Homo sapiens: one gene and its partners. The protein of the gene in region 1 purifies or fractionates together with the protein of each later gene. This does not show direct contact. Each region holds a gene or a part of one and is shown in the gene's direction. Other genes may lie near its edges. The genes, in order: ANO4, PRKAR2B, GJC1, DNAJC18, QSER1, TXK and MIA3.

Region 1 (3,500 bases):
TTTTAGTTCTTGGGCTTCATAGTGGATTTATGAGAGCTTGTTGTATTATTAAAGTATTACTTTAATGGAGTCACATGGATTAAAGTTCTCTGAATAGTGCCTGGTCCCCAACAGGTATTCGGCAAACATTTGTGGCATTTTATGCCGACTCAAAAGTGATAGCTGGAGGATACATTAGGAAGGACTCTTCTAGTGGCAAGTGGCAGAAATCCAGGGTAAACTGACTTAAACAACAAAAAATTGTTCAGTTAGCTGGGAGAGTCAAGGGGTGATATGAGCTTCAGTAATGGCCGGATCCCAGGCCTCAAGCAGTGTCAGCAGGATGCTGCCTCTCTGCTGTCTCTGCTTTGTTTTCTTGACTTCCTTCTCAAGCAGGCTCTCTCTCTCCATACAAGGCCACCAGGAGTCCCAGGCTTTTGCCTTCTGTGGGCTTAGTGATCATTCACTAAGTGATAGTTCTGGCAGACATCTTGATGATGTCACTGATCAGGTCTGGCTCATCTTTTGAGCTGAGATCAGGCAGGTGGAGGGGGAAGTCCTAGTCAACCCACACAGATGATTCCCCAGAGAAGAGATATTATTTTATCAGAAGAAAAATGCTGGACAAGCAAAACAACAGATATCTAGTATAGAGAAACTTCAAATTTCCCTCCTATTGAATGAGGACTATATAATGAGAATGGAAGAGATTTGAGAATCAGAAAAATCATAGTTTGAATGCAACATTTTTCTGTGTCTTTATAGATACCGGGACTACCGTGACCCGCCTCATTCACTGGTGCCCTATGGCTACACACTGCAGTTTTGGCATGTCCTAGCTGCTCGATTAGCTTTTATCATTGTCTTTGAGGTAAGTTTCCTCAGCCAAATTCTTTATTTCCTTTGACATAATGAAGTCAGTAGGAGTAATGAATAAAAATAAGTGATGGGGATTTTGAATGTGATTATCTATATTTCCAGAAGTAGTAGTGTCATATTATGTAACCTCTTTTTGATCTTTTTTCTTAATTGAAGTATTTGATTTTTCCAAGACATATTTGAAAGTCCATAGTTGGTTTTTAATGGACAAATCTGAACTCGTTGCTCCTAAATGTAATTTTCTGGGGCCATAGTTCTTAAACTTTAGCAAAAATGCAGTTTTTCCATCCTCACTCCCAGATATTCTGACATACCATGTCTGTGGCTTGTTTTTCATGAGCTCGTTGTAATGATTCTGACTATAGGCATTCTGGGACCATAATTTGGAAACATTTGGAAAACATCAGCCCAGTAAGATTCATTCTTTTTTTCTTTTTCTTTTTCAACTTTTATTTTAGATACAGTGGGTACATGTGCAAGTTTGTTACAAAGTTACATTGCATGATGTTGAGGTTTGGGGTGCGACTGAACCCACCACCCAGGTAGCGAGCATAGTATTCAATAGGTAGTTATTCAGCCCTTGTCCCCTCCCCCTCTCCCCTCTATAGTAGTCCCCAGTGTCTGTTGTTCTCATCTTTATGTCCATGTGTACCCAGTGTTTAGCTTCCACTCTAAGTACGTACAATAAGAACTTGCAGTGTTTAGTTTTCAGTTTCTACATTATTTCACTTAAGATAATGGCCTCCAGCTACATCCATGTTGCTGCAAAGGACATGGTTTCATTCTTTTTTATGGCCACATAGTATTCCATGGTGTATACATACCACATTTTCTCTATCTGGTCCACCATTGATGGGCACCCAGGTTGATTCCATGTCTTTGCTATTGTGAATAGTCCTGTGATTGACATATGAGTACATGTGTCTTTTTGGTAGAATGCTTTATTTTCTTTTGAGTATATACCCAGAAATGGGATTGCTGGGTTGAATGGTAGTTAAGCCCTTTGTTCTTTGAGAAATCTCCAGACTACACAGTAGTTGGACTAATTTACCTTTCCACCAACAGTGTGCAGGTGTCCCCTTTTCTCTGAAGCCTCGCCAGCATCTGTTAATTTGTTTACTTTTTTTTTTTTTTTTTTTTTTTTTTTAAGACTGATTCTCTCTCTGTCGCCCAGGCTGGAGTGCAATGGCACAATCTCGGCTCACTGCAACCTCTGCCTCCCAGGTTCAAGTAATTCTCTGCCTCAGCCTCCTGAGTAGGTGGGATTACAGGCACCCGCTACCACACCTGGCTAATTTTTGTATTTTTAGTGGAGACGGGGTTTCACTGTCTTGGCCAGGCTGGTCTTAACCTGACCTCATGATCCATCCGCCTTGGCCTCCCAAAGTGCTGGGATTACAGGCGTGAGCCACTGCACTTGGCCTGACTTTCTAATAAAAGCCGTACTGACTGGTGTGAGATGGTGTCTCATTGTGGTTTTGATTTGCATTTCTCTAATTTCCTTAGAGATTCTGAGCATTTTTTCATATTATTGTTGTCTGCTTCTATATCTTCTTTTGAGAAGTATCTGTTTGTGTCCTTTGACCACTTTTTAATGGGGTTATTTGTTTTTTACATGTTGATTTGTTTAAGTTCCTTACAGATTCTGGGTATTAGACCTTTATTGGGTGCATAGTTTGCAAATATTTTCTCCCATTCTGTACGGTGTCTGTTTACTTCTTTGACAGTTTCTCTTGCTGTGCAGAAGCTCTTTAATTAGATTTGACTTAGCAATTTTTGTTTTTGTTGCAATTGCTTTTCAGGACTTCACCATAAATTCTTTGCCCAGGCCAGTATTGAGAAGGGTATTTCCTAGGTTTTCTTCTAGCATTTTTATAGTTGAGGTCTTACATGTAAGTCTTTAATTCATCTTGAGTTAAATTTTGTTTATGATGATAGGTAGAAGTCCAGTTTCATTCTTCTGCATATGGATAGCCAGTTATCTCAGCACCATTTATTGAACAAGGAATCCTTCCCCCACTGCTTGTTTTTGTCAAGTTGGAGATTCACTCTTTCTAAATGTCTCCAATTATTGCCATCATCATTACCACACATATTGAAATATACTGATTCATATAGTTAATTTATGATTTTCAAATAGTTATCAGGATTTCCCAACATGATCATAAGCATTTTCCAATAGGACTGGGTATTACAAGTGGTATTTCTGGTTGTGTATCATCACGGAATTATTTATATTCAAGCATCCAAGTAAGTATTTATTAGCTAAGACTCAAAATGGAATTATAAAGTAAAATCTGTCTAGCAATTGTCTATATTATATGTCAATAAAAATATATTATCTATTTTCTTTCAGGGTTTAAGAAAATTGCTGTAAAAATAGTTTGCATTTCTATGACTCTAGTCATAAGTGGAAATTTCATCTCTTGTCACATATATTAAAGCCAGATTAATAAAAGCCAAGGTTGCCTCTCGGCTTGGATCTAAAGTTTCCTAGACCTCTTCAAGACTATTCTATCACTGCTTTTTCCTTCAGTCCAGGGAACCAAAAGAAGAAAATATTAAGCTGCTCTTCCCTGGAAATTATCTTACCAATGGCACACTCTCTCTTTAAAGAAGATATTTTTAACCCATCACTGTCT
Region 2 (3,500 bases), on another chromosome or scaffold:
ATTATCAGCTTACATCTGGTAAAAATTTTGTCCACATCACACAGTGCGTGGTAGACAGCTGATCTTTTCCAGCAGCATATTTCTTTAAATAAGAGTAGGTCAGGGATTGGAAATCTGGTGCCTTCAGAGCTAGGCAGGTAACACAGAGAAGAAAACCAAGCCAGGAAGGGACTTTGGCAGATTGGAGAACATGTATTTCATTAAAGAAACAGCTGCTATCCCACCATAGTTTTATTGTTGCCATGTGGAAATATGGGCTATGTGATGCTGATTTTTCAAGAGAAGCTGGAGATTGAATTTTTATGAAAAATTATTTTAAAATGCTGGCTGGTAATTAATACAACAAACACATATACAACCTACACACTGCTCGATTTATTTGGCCTATAGGCTACCAGTTTTTTACTCCCGAACTAGATAAGCTTACCCAGTTAATTTGTTTCTATTTAATATTGTTTTTCTTTCTTTGTAGTTTTCTGAACGCCTGAAAGTAGTAGATGTGATAGGCACCAAAGTATACAACGATGGAGAACAAATCATTGCTCAGGTATGATATTTTGAAATGTAATTCAGTTTAGGGTTATATTCCAAAAGGTTCCTGTAGTGGTAGATCTTGATAAACTTTTCATATTTCTAAAATTAGTATGCAGTGATGGGTTAAATAAATATTACTTCTACCAAATGACCTGTTAAAAATGGTTTCATTTATAGTCATTACTCTATTGAATATTTTTGTTTATGTAATTAACTCCTAATGAAGGTGTATTAAACCATCAAATGGTTTTCTGCATCATTGTAGTCATTTATAAGAGGAAAAAACAGGTGAATGTTCCATGACATTAATGAGGACCCAGAAAGTACACTGGAAAATTCTATAGAGTTTTGCATGATCAGTTCATGATGAAAATTCCTGAGGCTGCTCCTTGATAAAATTCACCAAGAAAGGAACACACTGCAACATATACTGTTTTGGCTTCCAAGACTACATGTGGGTCAACATGTTATTTAATCCCTAATACTTTTCTAAGATCCCAGCTGGAACCAATAATATTAGATACCTGGGTTGGAGTAGGGCTACCAAAAGTAGAATTTGTGAAGACTGTTGAAGTTCACAGGTAAAGCATGCAGATGATAGTACCTTGTTTCCTAGTTATATTTTTGAAGCACTAAGCAAATGATTAAAATGGATTTTTAATAGATTCTGTAATTTTTGTATCACAGCCTTATACTGTTTTGTGCTCTTTATCTGAAATGCAGTCTTTTCCTTTATATGGGAAACAAGATTCAAGGTCTTTGAGACTGAGAAAAAGAATTGTTTTAGAAGACAAATACATAAGTAAATCTTTCGATCAACACCCCTCTCCCATTGCTGAGTGTGTGTGTGTGTATGTGTGTGTTAGAGCAGTCAGGGATTGGGAAGAAATGGAGTCAAGCAAGGTTAAAGTTCTACTGTATAAACTAGTAAATAACAAAGCAAAGAGCATGTTTTAAATGATTTTTTAAGGTTTTATTTTGAAATAATTATAGATTCACAGGAAGTTGCAAAAATAGTTTTGAGAGGTCCCGTGTACTCTTCACCCAGTTTCTCCTAATGCGTTTTGCATCACTGTTAATAACAATATCAAAACTAGGAAAATGACATTGGCATAATTCACAGACCATATTCAGTTTTCACCAGTTTTACATACACTTAGAGCGTGCTTTAAAAATAGTTAAAAATTACTCAGCAGTTAATAGACCTATTATGATTCAGAACACTCGAAAACTTAATATGAAGCTTTTATGAAAACCTGATACAAGAATAAGGGAAAGGAGATATGCTATACTTAGGGTTTATTAAGGATATTCTTACATATTTGTTGTCTTTTAAGCATTTATAAATATACATATACACCCTATATTCTAAAAATCTAAATTCAACATTTATTTTTGTGATAGAATCAGATGCTAAACTTCTTGAATTTGTATTAAGGAGTTTTGAAATATTTTAAGTTTCTCCAGAATCACTTTGAGAGGCTTAGAGAAGTCAGTGTCTGTATTATTATCTTCCATATTGTATTGTTTAATTCAGACTGCATCATTGGAGATCAAGGCAGAGTTCATTAAGAAACAAAAGCAAGAAAGAACAGGTATATGGGTAGAGCAACACTTTTCTTTTAGAAGTCCTTCCAAAGCCTTGAAATGGAATGTCAGTAGGCTAGCATGTCAGAGTTTGGTCCTCAGTTGACTGTAGTGAAAATGTCAAGGCCCACATCTGCTGCTTCCGGCTCCATCTGGATGCTTTCTGCTCTTTGCAAGTTGATGGCTTATCTTGGGTCACCACACCAATGCTTGCGATGTTAGGATGACGCAGGGTGCATGTCTCGGCACTTCCTCAGGAGCACAGGATCCGCAGACATGTTTCTGCCAACTAAGGGGACGCTGCTGGCATACACAGCAGTGTTGCCATTTCCAACTATGTATGCTGTTATCTAGGCTGAAATTTGGGTGAAATTCTTACCCCAGTGTTGCCACATTTTCTTGGTTTTTTAGCAGAAATACAGTGGTAGAGAATATATTATTTCAAGGCCAGGCACAGTGGCTCACGCCTGTAATCCCAGCACTTTGGGAGGCTGAGGCAGGTAGATCACTTCAAGGTCAGGAGTTCGAGACCAGCCTGGCCAACATGGTGAAACCCCATCTCTAATAAAAATACAAAAAAATAAATAAATACGGGTTCTAGATCCCTGAGGAATTGCTACACTGTCCTCCAAAATGGTTGAACCAATCTACATTCCCACCAACAGTGCAAAAGCATTCCTATTTCTCCACAACCTCACCAGCATCTATCGTTGCTTGACTTTTTAATAATTGCCATTCTGACTGGCGTGAGATGGTTTCTCATTATGGTTTTGATTTGCATTTCTCTAATGATCAGTAATGATCTTTTTTTCATTTTTTTTTTGGCTGCATAAATATCTTCTTTTGATTCTTTTGAGAAGTGTCCGTTCATATCCTTTGCCCACTTTTTAATGGCAGAAATACCATTTGACCCAGAAAACCCATTACTGGGTATATACCCAAAGGAATATAAATCATTCTGCTATAAAGACACATGCACACATATGTTTATTGCAGCACTATTTACAATAACAAAGACATGGAACCAACCCAAATGCCCATCAGTGATAGACTGGATAAAGAAAACGTGGTACATATATACCATGGAGTACTATGCAGCCATAAAAAAGAATGAGATAATGTCCTTTGCAGGACATGGATGAAGCTGGAAGCCATCATTCTCAGCAGACTAACACAGGAGTAGAAAACTAAACACCGAATGTTCTCACTCATAAGTGGGAGTTGAACAATAAGAACACATGGACACAGGGAGGGGAACATCACACACCGGGGCCTGTCAGGGGGTGGGGAGTGAAGGTAGGGAGAGTATTAGGACAGATACCTAATGCATGCGGGGCTTAAAACCAGACAGGTTGATAGGTATAGCAAACCTCCATGGC
Region 3 (3,500 bases), on another chromosome or scaffold:
ATCTTGTCTCACTGCAACGGTGCTATCTTGTCTCACTGCAACCTCCGCCTCCCGAGTTCAAGTGATTCTCATGCCTCAGCCTCCCAAGTAGCTGGGATTACAGGAATGCCCCACCATGCCCAGCTAATTTTGTATTTTTTAGTAGAGACGGGGTTTCACCATGTTGGTCAGGCTGGTCTCCAACTCTTGACATTAGGTGATCCGCCTGCCTCTGCCTTCCAGAGTGCTGGGATTACAGGTGTGAGCCACCGCACTCGACCAGATTATTAGTTTTGTAAGACCGTTCCTTTGAGAATAGGTATGAGAAGATAGATTTTGGCTGATATCGTTAACCTGAAATTTAGACATAGAAAACAGTTCTGAGCTGTTAATATCAGCTGAATGGCAACAGTTGTTTTTCAACATACTGCTACAGCTGATGAGTTCAGTTTGTGTTGAAATAAGAACCTAGTAAAATGTATTTTTAAAAATATTTTTTAAGATTTAAATACAAATAATTTTAAATACAAAAAACTAGCTGGGCGTTTGAGCATTGCTATTTACTGCAACTCTAAAGAGTGAATGACCTGTTAGTCAGTACTGGCTGGCATACAGTTATACATTCTTGAATTTTACAAGTACTGTAGTTGGCTGAGAGCAGTCCTTGGCAATAAAGGTTTATCTTTCAGACCTGTGGAATATATTGCCCAAAGAGTTTTCCTAAAACAAGGATATGATGATCTCTTTGCAGATAGCATTTTACTTTTTTTTTTTTTTTTTAGACGGAGTCTCGCTCCATTGCCCAGGCTGGAGTGCAGTGGCGTGATCTCTGCTCACCACAAGCTCCACCTCCCGAGTTCATGCCATTCTCCTGCCTCAGCCTCCTGTGTAGCTGGGACTACAGGCGTCCACCACCATGCCCGGCTAATTTTTTGTATTTTTAGTAGAGACTGTTTCATCGTGTTAACCAGGATGGTCTCGATCTCCTGATCTCATGATCCGGCCACCTCGGCCTCCCAAAATGCTGGGGTTACAGTCGTGAGCCACCGTGCCCGGCCAGCATTTTACTTCTAAAGAAATGAAATGGGGCCAGGAGTGGTGGCTGATGCTTATAATCCCAGCACTTTGGGAGGCCAAGGCGGGTGGATCACCTGAGGTCAGGAGTTCAAGACCAGCCTAGCCAACATGGTGAAATCCCATTTCTACTAAAAGTACAAAAAATTACCTGGGCGTGGTGGCAGTCATCTGTAATCCCAGCTACTCGGGAGGCTGAGGCAGGCAAATGGCTTGAACCTGGGAGGTGGAGGTTGCAGTTAGCCGAGATCGCATCACTGCTCTCCAGCCTGGGCGACAGAGCGAGACTCTGTCTCAAAATAAAAAGAAAGAAATGAAGTATTCTGGTAAATGAATTCTTCTCCAGCTCTCAGTTGAAGCTTTGTTCTTTGAGGCTATAATGCTTGTAATACAAGCACAATTTGGACAAAAGCATTCTGGTGCCCATTAAGTCATTCAACTTTTTTTTTTTTTTTCTTTTGAGACTGAGTCTCACTCTTTCACCCAGGGTGGAGTGCAGTGGCACGATCTTGGCTCACTGCAACCTCCGTCTCCCAGGTTCAAGGAATTCTCTTGCCTCAGCCTTGCGAGAAGCTGGGATTATAGGTGTCCACCACCACGCCCAGCTAATTTTTGTATTTTTAGTAGAGAAAGGGTTTCACCATGTTGGCTAGGCTGGTCTCGAACTCCTGACCTCAGGTTGCCTCAGCCTCTCAAAGTGCTGGGATTACAGACGCGAACCACTGTGTCTGGCCCTTTTTATTTTTTTGAGACGGAGTTTTGCTCTTGTTGCCTAGGCTGGAGTGCAGTCGCGCAATCTCGGCTCACCGCAACCTCTGCCCCCTGGGCAAGATTCTCTTGCCTCAGCCTCCCAAGTAGCTGGGATTACAGGCATGCACCACCATGCCCAGCTAATTTTGTATTGGTAGAGACAGGGTTTCTCCATGTTGGTCAGGCTGGTCTCCTGACCTCAGGTGATCCACCTGCCTCGGTCTCCCAAAGTGCTGGGATTACAGGCATGAGCCACTGCGCCCAGCCTTTTTTTTTTTTTTTTTTTTTTTTTTTTTGTAATTGAGACAGAGTCTTGTTCTGTAGCCCAGGCTAAAGTGTAGTGGTGCTCTCAAGCGATCCTTCCACCACAGCATCCCTAGTAGCTGGGACCACAGGCCCACACCGCCACCACGCCCAGTTAATTTTAAAATTTTTTTTGGAAGAGACAGGGTCTTGTTTTGTTGCCCAGGCTGGTCTTGAACTCCTGGGCTCAAGCAGTCCTCTTGGCCTCTCAAATATGGGGATTACAGGCCAAGGCACCTGGATCCCAACGTTTTTTTTTTTTTTTTCTTCCCCAAAACATATAAGCACTTGATTAAAAAAAAAAAATAGTTGGACTCTTTCTTTCCCCCCCTTCTCACTATTGCACTTGACTAATTTTTTTTTTTTTTTTTTTAAGACAGTCTTGTTCTGTCATCCAGGCTGGAGTTGCAGTGGTGCGATCTCGGCTCGCTGCAACCTCTGCCTCCCAGGTTCAAGCAATTCTCCTGCCTCAGCCTCCCAAGTAATTGGGACTACTGGCGCATGCTGCCACGCCTGGCTAATTTGACTGATTTTATTTTATTTATTTTATTTTTGAGACAGAGCCTCACTGTGTCACCCAGTCTGGAGTGCAGTGGCACACATGTACTCCCAGCACTTTCGGAGGCTGAGGCTAGAGGATACCTTGAGCCCAGGAGTTTGAGACCACCCTGGGCAACATAGTGAGGGCCCTGTCTCTGCAAAAAGTAATTTGAAAATTAGCTGGATGTGGTGGCATACACCTGTGGTTTCAGCTACTCAGGAGGATGAGGCAGGAGGATTTTTTGAGCCCAGAAGTTGAAGGCTACAGTGAGTTGTGATCACACCATGCACTCCACCCTGGTCAACAGAGTGGGACAGTCTCTATTTGAAAAAAGAGGCCGGGTGCGGTGGCTCACACCTGTAATCCCAGCACTTTGGTAGGCCGAGGCAGGCAGGTCACAAGGTCAGGAGTTCGAGACCATCCTGGCCAACATGGTGAAACCCTATCTCTACTAAAATACAAAAAATTAGCCGGGCATGGTGGCGCGCGCCTGTAATCCCAACTACTCTGGAGGCTGAGGCAGGGGAATCGCTTGAACCCGGGAGGTGGAGGTTGCAGTGAGCTGAGATTGTGCCGCTGCACTCCAGCCTGGCAACAGAGCAAGACTCCATCTCAAAAAACGAAAAGAGGGCCAGGCACAGTGACTCACGCCTTGTAATCCCATCACTTTGGGAGGCCGAGGTGGGCAGGTCATGAGATCAGGAGATCGAGACCATCCTGGCTAACACCGTGAAACCCCGTCTCTACTAAAAATACAAAAAATTAGCCAGGTGTGGTGGCACACGCCAGTAGTCCCAGCTACTTAGGAGGCTGCGGCAGGAGAATCGCTTGAACCTGGGAGGCAGAGGTTGCA
Region 4 (2,912 bases), on another chromosome or scaffold:
AGCCTACACTCCATGCTTCCTTCATATTGGAAGAAAAGTTTCTGGTAGAGAGTCGGCCGGGTGCACTGGCTCAAGCCTGTAATCCCAGCACTTTGGGAGGCTGTGGCAGGTGGATCACCTGAGGTCAGGAGTTCAAGACCAGCCTGGCCAACACAGTGAAACCCCATCTCTACTAATAATACAAAAATTAGCCAGGTGTGGTGGCACATGCCTGTAGTCCCAGCTACTCGGGAGGCTGAGGCATGAGAATCGCTGCAACTTGCAAGGTGGAGGTTACAGTGAGCTGAAATCACGCCACTGCACTCCACTCCATCTCAAAAAAAAAAAGAGTCTACATTAAACAGATTCCAAAGTAAAGTTTCTTCATCCCAATGCATGGCCATGATTTACACAGACGTGCCTAGCATGGCTCATCAACATCTGAACGGTTGTTCCCTACCATGCCTCTGCAGGCATTCCACAGAGTCAGGAGATGGGTTCACAGGTAAAGATTGGGGGCTTTAGTGGCTTGTAGGGGACAACTGCTCAGTTGCAGGGAGAGGGAGCATTTCTAGAAATAGCCAGATTTTGCTGCCCAACTAGATCTGTCCTCCTGGTTTTAGGGGGCCCTTCTTGATCCCCTCTGAGTGACTGAGGGAGGTTACATTGTAAAATATGTCCATGAGCCAAACAGGCTTATGGAAAGTTCTTCTACACACAAAAAAATCAAAGCTCTCCTCTCCCCATCCCCAACCACTGCTAGAAAATTGGCCATAATGAAACTGACTTGACAGGTTAAAAGACCCTGTCCTAGATGCCCAGGAATCAGGTAGTCACACATTTTATGGACTTCATGGCAGCGATAAGTAATCTGTGATGATACTAAATAGAAGCAATAATAACTAACTCCATTAAATGTCACGCTGATTGTCTGTTTTTATAGCACCGATGGTACTGTTTTATTTATTGCCAATAGACCACAACATTCACATCTGTTTTTCCTCAAGGGAACCGTATTTGCTTTTGGTTGAAGGATTTATCTATTTGATACTATCCAGAATATTGTGAAGCTATAATTTCCTGGGTTATATTTTAGATGGGTTGTCTGCATGGTGGTAAAATAAGCTTTTTCCTCTCGCCTACGTCCTTTGGAAGATCTCCTGATCATACATAACTAGGTAGGGCTTATTCTTGCTGCCGGAGCTTGGCACCCAGCTCTAGACTGTTTCTTTGAGCATTACTGCAGATTGGAGACGTGTGTGAGAGGAGCAGCGCTCAGAAATAGGGCTTGAGGCTCAAGCAGAAACTGAAGCTCTCATTCAAATGAAGATGCTCTCTCTACCGCACGATCGGCAGTGAGAAAAGGAGGATGAAAATCCTTCTCATCACAAAGAGCTTGAAGGAACCCACGTCCCCAGATTAGCAACCCTAGAGTTCATCTGCTCAGGCCGGGAAATGTGTAAGCTTCCTTGATCAGCTCCAGGCCTCACAGCACGGGAGCAGTGACCAGTAAGGAAACGTCACTGCTGTGCTTTCTGTTGGAAATTGTTCGAAAATACAGTGAACTGGCCAGGCCCAGTAGCTCATGCCTGTAATCCCAGCACTTTGAAAGGCTGAGGCAGGCAGATCATTTGAGGTCAGGAGTTCCAGACCAGCCTGGCCAACATGGTGAAACCCTGTCTGTACTAAAAATACAAAAATTAGGCGGGCATGGTAGCACGTGTCTGTAATCCCAGCTCCTCAGGAGGCTGAGGCAGAAGAATCTCTTGAGCCTGGGAGGCAGAGGTTGCAGTAAGCTGAGATCACATCATTGCACTCCAGCCTGGGTGACAGAGCAAGACTCTGTCTCAAAAAAAAAAAAAGAAAGAAAAAAGAAAATACAGTGAACTCCAGATGCCACTGGAACATGGGTTCCAGCAGCCTGGCCAAGCTATGTGTCATTCTTTTTCCTCATGATACCCAGGATGGGCTTTGTGAGGAGGCACTGTGCCGTTCCAGTGGCTTTCTGTTACAGCTGGCCACACCATACAAGCAAGTACATCATCTGCATGCACTGCTCCTCACAGGAGCTTGCACTTCATTCATATTTATTCTGCCCTCATTTAAGGTATAAGCTTAGTGTCCTAATATATTTATTTTTGGAAAGGGCCAAGTTACAAAACATCTTTTTTTTGAGGCTGCACTGTTGATATGTCATGCAGTGGCCACCAAGAAAGTATATACTCGTGTTAGATACTGATTACATCATTTACATCACGCTCAGTATTTGGAATTAAAGATGTGAATGTTCTGTGACCAGAGTAGGGATGACACAAATGGAATCAGCTCCTGGTGGACTAAGAATCTTGAAAAAATCTGGCCACCTCATCCACTACATCTGGATTGAGTGTACTGCAACAAAGAAAAACATTAAACAATTTTATATTAAAAGAATGGCTACTTTTCCTTGGTTCTTTTACCTTTGCCCATGGCATCCTTGGCCACTGCACATCGCCTGACTCCCTTGGAGCCACTTCCGACTAAAGAAGCTTTTGACGCCTGCTCCAGTCTTCCCTCACCCGTCAGTGGGATTATTTGCATTTAGAATAGTAGATAGCATTGTTGGCATCAGTTCCACATTTTCTATCAGATAACAGCAGCTGCAGTACCTCACAGCCAATATACAGATCAAAACTACACTTAGCATCAGAAATTCAGGTGTTATCCCAGTTCCTTGCTGGCTTTGGTCCTAGTGGCCCATATTTAGGAAAGTTTTGGTTTAAAAATATAGTAAATGATATTTACATGATCCTAACTGGTCATGATAGCTTTCATTTGAAAAAGAAAGTGAGATGAGATTCAATTCAGCAATGATTGAGAACTTACTCTGAGCCAGGTGGGCTGGGTTTTTGGAATGGGGGTCAGGGAACAGGTGAGGCCCAGCACCAAGACTC
Region 5 (3,500 bases), on another chromosome or scaffold:
CAGATCACAAGGGTAAACCCATTTTTACTTTTGCTATATGTGGCTAAAATGCTGTCCTGAAATGTTAACAGTCTCTTTCTGACAGTACTTTGTTAATTTCTGATCAACTTTTCATGATAAACATGCATCTATTATGATTGGGAAGTTGTTCATAGGAAGTGAAAGCTTGAAATGCAAGAGATTTTTAAAGTGAATATATTTTGGTAAAAGAAACTGCAGTTCACTGTTTTTTTATATTTATTTATCATGTTAGATGTAGGCAATTTAGCTTTTTTTTTTCCATTTTAATGTTATGTACATTTTGGTTTGTCCATTGGTATTTTGTGTTGGTACTTTGGGATAAATTAATCACTAGAGATATGTACATTTTTACTGATTTCTTCATTTTCCTATGACCTTATCAAACTATATATAAATTATATAACAATTACAGATATGAATTGCTGATATCATTGTAACTTCATTTTTACTCTATGAAAACTAGCTAATCCAGGCGTGGTGGCTTGCACCTATAATCCCATCACTTTGGTAGACCGAGATAGGAGGATCACTTGAGCCCAGGAGTTCAAGATAGCCTGAGCAACATTGCAAGACCCCATCTCTACAAAAATTTAAAAATTAGCCAGGTTTGGGAGTATGCGCCTGTAGTCTCAGCTACTTGGGACACTGCGGCTGCAGTGAGCTATGATCGCAAGACTGCACTCTAGCCTGGGCAACAGAGTAAGACCCTGTCTCTTAAAAAAAAAAGAAAAGAAAGAAAGAAGCTAGCTATTTTGAAATGTAATTTTCAAAATTTACATGCAGAACTAACTGGTCAGGTTTTTCAGTCTTAAGACATTTTGATGAGTTGAGGGTTATGTAAGTCATTACTATGAAAACATAAAGTAATTGTGCCATAATTACATAAAAATCTTTGTGCCTTTTCTTCATAGGCATGCATTCCTCAGCAGCAACTGAGCTGTTTGCTACTGGACCTTTGCCAAGCACTGGAACACTTCCACCATCTCTCTCTGCTTATCAGCATCCCACCACCTTCAGCAATAGAAACTTTGCTACCACTTCACCTTTGGTGCTTCAGGATTCAACTTTTAACACTACATCAAATGGAATTTTAAGTCATCATGACCCTTTGCTACAAATCAAGACTTCCCAGGGAACTGTTCCAACTGCTTTGGCATTTGAGCGCCTGGGCAGTTCTGTATTAAGTAACAGCATACCACCTCAGTCTTCAACATACCGCTCAGCTCAAGAGTCTGCACCCCATCTTTTACAACCTCAATTTAGTTTGTTGCCTTCAGCACTTGGGGGATCCCAGCAGACTCCTCAAGCCTACAGTTCAACTCTCTTTACTAGTTCTACTGCTTCCATTGAAAGAGCTCTTCTTCGAGAATGTAGTGTTATTAAACACCATCAGCGGCCTTCAGGTACCCAGTCAATTCAGGCACAACTGACTGGTTCACAGCACTCCTTACATAGTTATCTATCAAATTCAAGTGTAGTTAATTTTCAGGAAACAACCAGGCAGTCATCTTTATCCTGTAGCCCAATTGGAGATTCCACTCAGGTGAGCAACGGAGGATTACAACAGAAGACCTCCCAGGTCTCAGTGGAACTTGCTCAGTCTTACTCATCTGCGATTCCATCATCAGGGTATCCTCCTTCTACTACAAAAATAAAAAGCTGTTCTACAGAACAACCACTGACATCAACCAAGACCCCTAAACCTCAAAGTATAATTCCTCCTGTGCAAACACTAAGCTATTCCAAACCTTTACATAATCAGAGTTCTGTAATATCGGGCCAAGCACAAATTTATTCTACAGCGCAGCTACCAAGCCTTTTATCAGTTAGTCAGTCCCAAAATTACGGTTTAGTACAGCCACATAATGTGCCATCTATTGTTCATTCACAGGTTTATAGGTCCAGCAAGGTTGAGAAATTGCCACCCTTGTATAAAACATTGACTTTTTCTGGGTCATCTCAGACTGTAACTCCTGAAAATCAGACGCTTAATTATTCATCTAATCAGCAAGAGGTATTGTCTTCAGTTACAAATGAGAATTACCCTGCTCAAACAAGAGATCTGTCTTCAGTAAGTCAGTCTCAAAGTTACTCATCTGGTCACTCTCAGGGTTTATCACCAGTTAGCCAGACACAGGTTAGCTATTCATCTCAATCACAAGTTTTGTCAGTTGTTAGTCTTTCAGAAAGCTATGCTTCAGGGGAGTCCCTAACATTAACAGCCCCTTCTCTTTCTTATTCTTCTGCCTCTCGGGCTCAGAATTTGCCAGACTCTAGCCCGACCCAGAATTATATTTCTATGCATTCTTCCCAAAATGTTCAGACTCAAGAGTCATCATCTCCCCAGTCCCAGAAGTTTTTGCCTGCTGTCCAGTCATCATCTTTTGCATCCTCTACTCATTGTCAGACATTACAAAATAACATAACTTCCCCTGACCCAAAGTCTTATGCTGAAAGAAAGCTTGACTCAGATGTGTATCCATCTTCAAAGCAAGAAGATGGTTTTCCAATGCAAGAGTTACAGGTGTTGCAGCCACAAGCATCTCTTGAGTCATCAACCCAAAGGCTATCTGATGGAGAAATTAATGCTCAAGAATCAACTTATAAGGTGTCAAAGGCAGATGACAGATATTCTCAGAGTGTAATCAGAAGTAATTCCCGTCTTGAAGATCAAGTTATTGGGGTTGCTCTGCAAGCATCAAAAAAAGAAGAAAGTGTTGTTGGTTCAGTGACACAACTTAACCAACAAATTGGCCAAGTCAATAATGCAGCTACCCTTGATCTTAAGAACTCAACTAATTTAATACAGACTCCACAAATAAGGTTGAATACTAAAGACTTAAAGCAGCAACATCCTCTCATACTTAAGGTGCATGAGTCCAAGGTCCAGGAACAGCACGATCAAATAATTAATGCTTCATCTCAGATTCAAATTCCAAATCATGCTTTAGGGCATGGCCATCAGGCATCTCTTCCTAATACACAGGTCCTTTTAGATTCTGCCTGTGATTTACAAATTCTTCAGCAGTCAATACTGCAGGCAGGTTTAGGTCAAGTAAAGGCATCTTTACAAGCACAGCGTGTTCAAAGCCCTCAACAAATAGTACATCCCTTCCTTCAGATGGAAGGTCATGTTATTCAAAGCAATGGTGATCATTCTCAGCAGCAACTCCATCCTCAAAATTCTGAAGTTATGAAAATGGACCTCTCTGAGTCTTCAAAACCATTACAACAACATCTAACAACAAAGGGCCATTTTAGTGAAACAAATCAACATGATTCAAAGAATCAGTTTGTTTCTCTTGGATCGATGTGTTTCCCAGAGGCAGTGCTTCTTAGTGATGAAAGAAATATTTTATCAAATGTAGATGATATCTTAGCAGCTACAGCAGCAGCTTGTGGAGTTACACCTACTGATTTTTCCAAGTCAACTTCAAATGAAACCATGCAGGCTGTTGAAGATGGTGATTCTAAATCTC
Region 6 (3,500 bases), on another chromosome or scaffold:
AGTTTGAAATTGTTCTTTCAGTTCCCAAGCAATCATTTCTCTCTAACCCCTTGTTTTCCTGCATTTTTGTTTGCAGGAGTTTTAATGTGGGAAGTTTTTACAGAAGGAAAAATGCCTTTTGAAAATAAGTCAAATTTGCAAGTCGTGGAAGCTATTTCTGAAGGCTTCAGGCTATATCGCCCTCACCTGGCACCAATGTCCATATATGAAGTCATGTACAGCTGCTGGCATGAGGTAAGCATATGTTACTTTCCTATGAAGGTTGGCAGTCCCAGCATCTGAGAGCAGACCTGATTATCACAAACATTACTTCAGAACTCTGTCATGGCAGGAAAAGGCATCTGTGTCTTGGTCATGATCCTGAGAGTCTGAAGTACTATCTCAAACTCACTACAAAGTCATGAATCCATTTTGTTTTGAACAATGGCCTTTTATCTGAGGAATTCAGTGCATTTTCTGAGTCTTATCTGTTTGAGATTGGTTCTTGCAGAAACTCTTGGTGTTACTCAAGCCTCAGTGATTAGATGTTTTATTAGCTTTAAGAATTAATGGGCCGGGCGCAGTGACTCATGCCTGTAATCTCAGCACTTTGGGAGGCCGAGGCGGGTGGATCACCTGAGGTCAGGAGTTTGAGACCAGCCCAGCCAACGTGGTAAAACCCCATCTCTACTAAAAATACAAAAATTAGCCGGGCGTGGTGGTGCATGCCTGTAATCCCAGCTACTGGGGATGCTGAAGCAGGAGAAGAATCTTGAACCTGGGAGGCGGAGCTTGCAGTGAGCCGAGATGGCGCCACTGCACTCCAGCCTGGGCGACAGAGTGAGACTCCATCTCAAAAAAAAAAAAAAAAAAAAAAAGAATTAAATGATGGAGGCTGTGTGTGGTGGCTCACGCCTGTAACCCCAGCACTTTGGGAGGCCGAGGTGGCCAGATCACTTGAGGTCAGGAGTTTGAGACCAGCCTGGCCAACATGGTGAAACCCTGTCTCTACTAAAAATACAAAAATTAGCCAGGCCTGGTGGTGCATGCCTGTAATTCCAGCTACTTGGGAGGCGGAGATAGGAGAATTGCTCGAACCCAGGAGGCAAAGGCTACAGTGAGCTGAGATTGCGCCACTACACTCCAGCCTGGACAACAGAACAAGACTCTGTCTCAAAAAATAAATAAATAAATAAATAAGCAAATAAATAAAAGAATTAATGGTGGAAACTAAGGGTAGAACCAGGCTTGTTAAATTTCCAGGTTGAAAAAGAAAGATGGTGTTTCCATTTACTTCACTCAACTTTGCTTTGTCTTGCTTTTCCAACGCTAATAGTAATGGGTTTCATCTGTCTTCTGGCAGTCAGGACTCCTGCTACAGATTAAACTAGAATAGGAATGGAGGCAGAAAGTGTGTCAGGAACTTCCACTCAGGAAGAAATCTCTCCAGAACTTAGTTTTTCTATTTGTTGAAATGCCAAGCTTAGAAATAAAGCCAGAGGGGCTTCTTTTCCACCTCTGGGCACTGACTCAACACACCCCTGCCCTTCTCAGTGAAATTCCCTTTGATTTTGAGAGCTTTGGTCTCTTTCCAGCTGACAGTTTCAGCTGGAAATTGCAGCTTGATGAGAAGTTTCCTCCTGGCTGAAAAAATAAAGCACTTGATTATCAATCCACAAACACTAGAATATTGAATATTTTAAGAGTGATGTGGTTATTCATATTCCAAAAGCATTACATTTATAGAGAGCCCCAATGTATGAAAATATTTTACATATATTAACTACTTTACAAGGAATCTTGAAAGACATAGAAAAATGCTCAGCAAGCTGTAAGAAAAAAATGTTCAGAAAAATGTTCAGTGAGTAGTAATAAGCAGCCGTTTTAGGAGCATCTTTGCAATAACAATGTAAGTAGCTCAGAAGTATATGTTGTGTATGAAATAATACACACGTGTGTGTGTAATATAATGCTTATTGAGATGTTATATGTAAGTGGAACTGAGACATAGAAGGAGGAAGGGAAGTGATAAGTAGGATGCTGTCAGAAGGACCATGTAAACAACATTTGTCTCAAATTGCAATCAGAACATTGATTAATACAATGGTGTGGTTATGTCGATTTATTTGTTTGAAAAAGTTGATTTGGCCGGGTGTGGTGGCTCATGCTTGTAATCCCAGCACTTTGGGAGGCTGAGGTGGGCGAATCACGAGGCTGGGAGTTCGAGACCAGCCTGGCTAACATGGTGAAACCCCGTCTCTACTAAAAATACAAAAAAATTAGCTGGGCATGGTGGCGGGCACCTGTAATCCCAGCTACTCAGGAGGCTGAGGCAGGAGAATTGTTTGAACCTGGGAGGCAGAGGTTGCAGTGAGCCAAGATCCCACCATTGCACTCCAGCCTGGGTGACTGGGCCAGACTGTCTCAAAAAAAAAAAAAAAAAAAGAAAAGAAAAGATTGATTTATTTTTGAGACAGAGTCTTGCTCTGTTTCCCAGACTACAGTGCAGTGGCACAATCACATCTCACTGCAGCCTTGACCTCCTGGGCTTACGCAATCCGCCCAGCTCAGCCTCCTGAATAGCTGGGACTACAGTGATGTGCCACCATGACCAGCTAATTTTTTAAAATTTTTTCTAGAGATGGGGTCTCACTTTGTTGCCCAGGCCTCAAGCAGTCCTCCTACCTTGGCCTCCCAAAGTGCTGGGATTACAGATGTGAGTCATTATGTCAGGTGCAAAAGTTGATATTGCCTACAGCTTTACCCCATGTGCTTAGGGCATTAGAGTCAAACGTGATTATGCTATCTTTGAGAGACAAATTTCAGGATTCATGCGCAGAAACAGGCTCCTCACAGAGCTCCACAATTTATGCCCAGAGTCTCAATAAGGACCCTCACTTGCACTTGTGCTGTCTTCTGCTCTGTTTATTTTACTGATGCTCTCTGTTTATAAGCCATGAAGAGGGGTGTCTTTCCGCTGACCCTACTGTCAATGACCCCTGTGAGAATGTGGCTACTATGAGTAGCTCTGTTTCCCATGGTTTTAAAAGATGCTGACAGTGCCATCTCTTCTTCCTCTTGGAATCAGAGCTAAACCACACCCCTAAGTGAAGTAGGAAAAAATGCTCCAATCCTTGGCTCCATGACCAGGGATATGGGGTCACTTATGGTGAATATCTTCCTTTAGAGTTGCTGACTCAAAAACTGTGCAAAGATCACAGGCTTTTAAAACTTTTTAAAATGTAAGAATATTCAGCAATCATTTTTCTATGTGTGAGAGGGACTTCCACACTCTTATTTTTCTGTTGACTGAGACTGAAAGCACAACCTGTGCCCCAAGACCTTCAAAGTCCCTCATGAAAACATGCCTTTTGCTTTCTGACTGAAATCCTCCTTTCTATAATGGCTCAGGTGTCATAGATACCCTGAACTGAGCTTGGGAGCCTGGTATGCTAGATGCCCCTTCTCCCAGCCCTTTCTTTACCTCACACATGTCAAGTCATTCAAATATATCTCTAGGG
Region 7 (3,500 bases), on another chromosome or scaffold:
GCCTCGAGTGGGTAGTAGATTGGCTTTTTAGACCCAAGAGTTAGATATTTTATAACCCTCCTTTGAGTAGTTACTGCTTCACTAGCCAAGGGAAGGTTACATGATCAGGAGTGTGGACTTGGGAGATAGTAGGATGAGCCCTTCTGTTCCTTCTGGAAGTGAATTATTTGAATTGGCTACAATTTTCTGAAGGATGCAATAAACAAGATCAATTTCCTTGATAGCTCTGATGTTCTCACTACAGCTCTGAGGGTTGGGGCCACTGTCTCCTCCCACTTAACCAAGGTCTTAGCCCATAGTGATAGGCCAAGGAGAGGCATGGTTCCTTATTTACCTGTCTCATTCATGTGGTCCTAATGTCTCCAGTGCAAAAGCCCTAACCTGTGGGAATCATGTGTTTTAACTTTGCAGTTGCAGCAGGAAATCGAAGACTGGAGTAAATTACATGCTGAGCTCAGTGAGCAAATCAAATCATTTGAGAAGTCTCAGAAAGATTTGGAAGTAGCTCTTACTCACAAGGATGATAATATTAATGTAAGTGCGTTCATGAATACAAGCTTAATTCTTGTGAATTATCAAATCTGTTGAATTAAATGGAAAGACTCTTAATGCCCTTTTACTTCTTTTCTAGGCTTTGACTAACTGCATTACACAGTTGAATCTGTTAGAGTGTGAATCTGAATCTGAGGGTCAAAATAAAGGTGGAAATGATTCAGATGAATTAGCAAATGGAGAAGTGGGAGGTAAGATCAGCCTCAAGGAGGATGGACCCCTTTTGCCTTCCTGTCTTTAAGTGCACCAGTGCTACTTTTCAGCTGGCTGCATTTCCTCTTAAGCTTTCGAGGTGTAAATACATTGGATTTGAATGTGTGTCTGTTTGCATTGGGCAGAGGTGGATTGCTAGGGTGAGGTGTAGCAGTAAGCATGCAGTGAACACTGACTTTGTTTTCACATTGAGACTAGAAGGGTGCACGGGAGCTGCACTGGTCATGTCTTACACCTCTAAGTATTGGACACATACAGTAGTAGAAACTTGTTTTTCAATTTCATGGAGATAACATTTTAAAACTTGTCATCTCAGTAGCTGTGTGGTTTTAAGGCCCACAACTGGTTTTAAGAGTACTGAGGTGGTTGGAGGCATAAACTGACTAAGGCCATGAAAGAAAACCACAACTGGTTTTGAGAGTACTGAGGTGGTTGGATCCATAAACTAAGGCCATGAGAGTGGAGGCTATAGTGTTGCAGTGTTTACTGATGAGGAAAATGTTTCTAGATGCCCTCTCTCAAGTTGGATATTGCTTGTGTAGTGGGTGTTTTAAACCACACCTGGTAGTAGATTCTGGAGGAGAATAGGAGGGAATCTTTCTGAATAAGACACTAAGCCCAGATGGAAGAAAGAGCTTTATCTCACATGTTTCTTCTTGCTCAATAATGGCATGTATAACATGTTTATTGTACAAATGGGAATTCACTTTTTCAGTCTTAAGTTTGCAGTTCTCTTAAAAGTCAGTCTAATCCTTTTCTGTTTTTGTTTGTTCTTTAAATGTTTGAACATGACAATTGTTTAGTTTTGGGTAAATCAAGAAAATATAGATTTAAAAAGCAAGGGAAGAAAAAGCAATGAAAGAAAGCCTTTTGTTTTTTAGGTGACCGGAATGAGAAGATGAAAAATCAAATTAAGCAGATGATGGATGTCTCTCGGGTATAATCGTTTTTAGAGTCCCATAATTGCCTGTGAATACTTTTACTATGCCTCACTTTTATGAATACTTGTCTCTTCTGCAATTTTTAGACACAGACTGCAATATCGGTAGTTGAAGAGGATCTAAAGCTTTTACAGCTTAAGCTAAGAGCCTCCGTGTCCACTAAATGTAACCTGGAAGGTAGGTTGCTTCTTGAGAAGAAATTGCTATATATTGGAAAGATACAAAATTGCATTAGAAAGATAAAGAGCGGCTTCCTGCTTTCATACTTCTCATTTCTCTCAGCACCAGCCCCCAACCAAGTTCTCAAGTTCTTGTGCACACATATGGAACTCAAATGTTTTATCCTTTACAGACCAGGTAAAGAAATTGGAAGATGACCGCAACTCACTACAAGCTGCCAAAGCTGGACTGGAAGATGAATGCAAAACCTTGAGGCAGAAAGTGGAGATTCTGAATGAGCTCTATCAGCAGAAGGAGATGGCTTTGCAAAAGTAAGATTATCATCATTTACTGTTAACTGTATTGTCATGTCAGTAAATAAATGTGTACTAATATAGATAATGTTATCGTTTTTCAGGATTGTACTCTTTTGCATCTGTAATTAGTATAAATTTGTCTTTCTTTCTTTCTGCTTTGTTTCTCATAAGCTGCATTTTTCTTTCCTTTCTAACCAGTAGTCAAAAACTGTTGCCTGTAACTCACTTAAGGGGGAGCAGTGTACTGGTACTGACGGTCGCTGCTGTGGGAGTGCTTCTCTTTTGAAGATCTGGCCATGCCTTGTCTGTGGCTCCGCCACTTGTTTCACTTTCCTTTCTTTGTGGTCAATTATGTAATTTCCTTTAAACAGTCTGAGGGATTTGTATGACGTGTTTTAGTAGAATAAAAACTTCAAAAAAGGAAAATTTACTTATTGAAGGTACATTTAGTTTTGGACTTCACAGAGTAAAATATTCAAACTAAACATAATTGTGGCAAAGATATTAGGAGTTTTGAATGTAGAACTATTTGGTGTGTATATTTAGATAATAATCCTCTGAAATACATATCTCAAATTTCGAGCGAGGTACCTTTTGAGAGGTATATTTTTATAGTTCAAGTTTTTTGTCCACAAAAACATCTGAATTCTCTAAAAATAGGTTATCTGTGGCAGTTGCTATTTGTGTTTGCTCTTATGTTTTACTCTTTGGTGTATATGGCAGTGTGTGAGGAGGCCTCTCTTGCTAAGCAAATTTAACTTTTTTAAATGCTTAGACTGCTACTGCTGTATGCCATTAAATATTGAAACCATACCATTAACTTTTTCTCTAATTCTTTGCTCACCAGGCAGCCAGTTTAGATTTTCCAGGTTTTGTTCAGGCCAGCTCTAAATAAATGCCTGTCCTGCTTCAGAGAGACATTCCTCATTTCATTACTTTTTAAAAAAGAGCACTTCTCTGCCTCCAATAGTAATGTGAATTACGTAAATGGCAACTGTTTTTCTTCGTGATACAGTTAACCCATTGATGTGGCAGTGTTTTATTCAACTTCCCCAAAATTCATTCAGTCTCCATGTGTGGTTTGTACTCTACTGTCCACCCCTAAAGTCACTGTGTTAATTCAGGCCCTTGTCATCTTTTATGCCAGTCCCCTAGCTAATCACGTATCTCCAGACTTTCTTTCCCTTTTTTTTTTTTTTTTTTTTTTTTGAGACAGAGTCTCACTCTGCCGCCCAGGCTGGAGTGCAGTGGCGTGGTCTCAGCTTACTGCAAGCTCCGCCTCCCAGGTTCATGCCATTCTCCTGCCTCAGTCTCCCGA

Evidence for each region.
Region 2: the proteins of ANO4 (region 1) and PRKAR2B fractionate together in Homo sapiens (co-fractionation; one large-scale study listed by BioGRID). This does not show direct contact.
Region 3: the proteins of ANO4 (region 1) and GJC1 fractionate together in Homo sapiens (co-fractionation; one large-scale study listed by BioGRID). This does not show direct contact.
Region 4: the proteins of ANO4 (region 1) and DNAJC18 purify together in Homo sapiens (affinity purification with mass spectrometry; one large-scale study listed by BioGRID and IntAct). This does not show direct contact.
Region 5: the proteins of ANO4 (region 1) and QSER1 fractionate together in Homo sapiens (co-fractionation; one large-scale study listed by BioGRID). This does not show direct contact.
Region 6: the proteins of ANO4 (region 1) and TXK fractionate together in Homo sapiens (co-fractionation; one large-scale study listed by BioGRID). This does not show direct contact.
Region 7: the proteins of ANO4 (region 1) and MIA3 purify together in Homo sapiens (affinity purification with mass spectrometry; one large-scale study listed by BioGRID and IntAct). This does not show direct contact.

The regions. Positions count from the first base shown.
Region 1 is NC_000012.12:101,119,776-101,123,275, forward strand, and holds part of ANO4 (anoctamin-4), read left to right. Parts: intron 1-744; coding exon 745-850; intron 851-3,500. UniProt on the Homo sapiens protein: Has calcium-dependent phospholipid scramblase activity; scrambles phosphatidylserine, phosphatidylcholine and galactosylceramide. Does not exhibit calcium-activated chloride channel (CaCC) activity.
Region 2 is NC_000007.14:107,152,705-107,156,204, forward strand, and holds part of PRKAR2B (cAMP-dependent protein kinase type II-beta regulatory subunit), read left to right. Parts: intron 1-472; coding exon 473-547; intron 548-3,500. UniProt on the Homo sapiens protein: Regulatory subunit of the cAMP-dependent protein kinases involved in cAMP signaling in cells. Type II regulatory chains mediate membrane association by binding to anchoring proteins, including the MAP2 kinase.
Region 3 is NC_000017.11:44,823,788-44,827,287, reverse strand, and holds part of GJC1 (gap junction gamma-1 protein), read left to right. Parts: intron 1-3,500. UniProt on the Homo sapiens protein: One gap junction consists of a cluster of closely packed pairs of transmembrane channels, the connexons, through which materials of low MW diffuse from one cell to a neighboring cell.
Region 4 is NC_000005.10:139,409,703-139,412,614, reverse strand, and holds the end of DNAJC18 (dnaJ homolog subfamily C member 18), read left to right. Parts: 3' UTR 1-2,412; downstream 2,413-2,912.
Region 5 is NC_000011.10:32,930,811-32,934,310, forward strand, and holds part of QSER1 (glutamine and serine-rich protein 1), read left to right. Parts: intron 1-932; coding exon 933-3,500. UniProt on the Homo sapiens protein: Plays an essential role in the protection and maintenance of transcriptional and developmental programs.
Region 6 is NC_000004.12:48,068,251-48,071,750, reverse strand, and holds part of TXK (tyrosine-protein kinase TXK), read left to right. Parts: intron 1-76; coding exon 77-234; intron 235-3,500. UniProt on the Homo sapiens protein: Non-receptor tyrosine kinase that plays a redundant role with ITK in regulation of the adaptive immune response. Regulates the development, function and differentiation of conventional T-cells and nonconventional NKT-cells.
Region 7 is NC_000001.11:222,652,597-222,656,096, forward strand, and holds part of MIA3 (transport and Golgi organization protein 1 homolog isoform 1 precursor), read left to right. Parts: intron 1-411; coding exon 412-534; intron 535-631; coding exon 632-743; intron 744-1,646; coding exon 1,647-1,702; intron 1,703-1,792; coding exon 1,793-1,883; intron 1,884-2,058; coding exon 2,059-2,197; intron 2,198-3,500.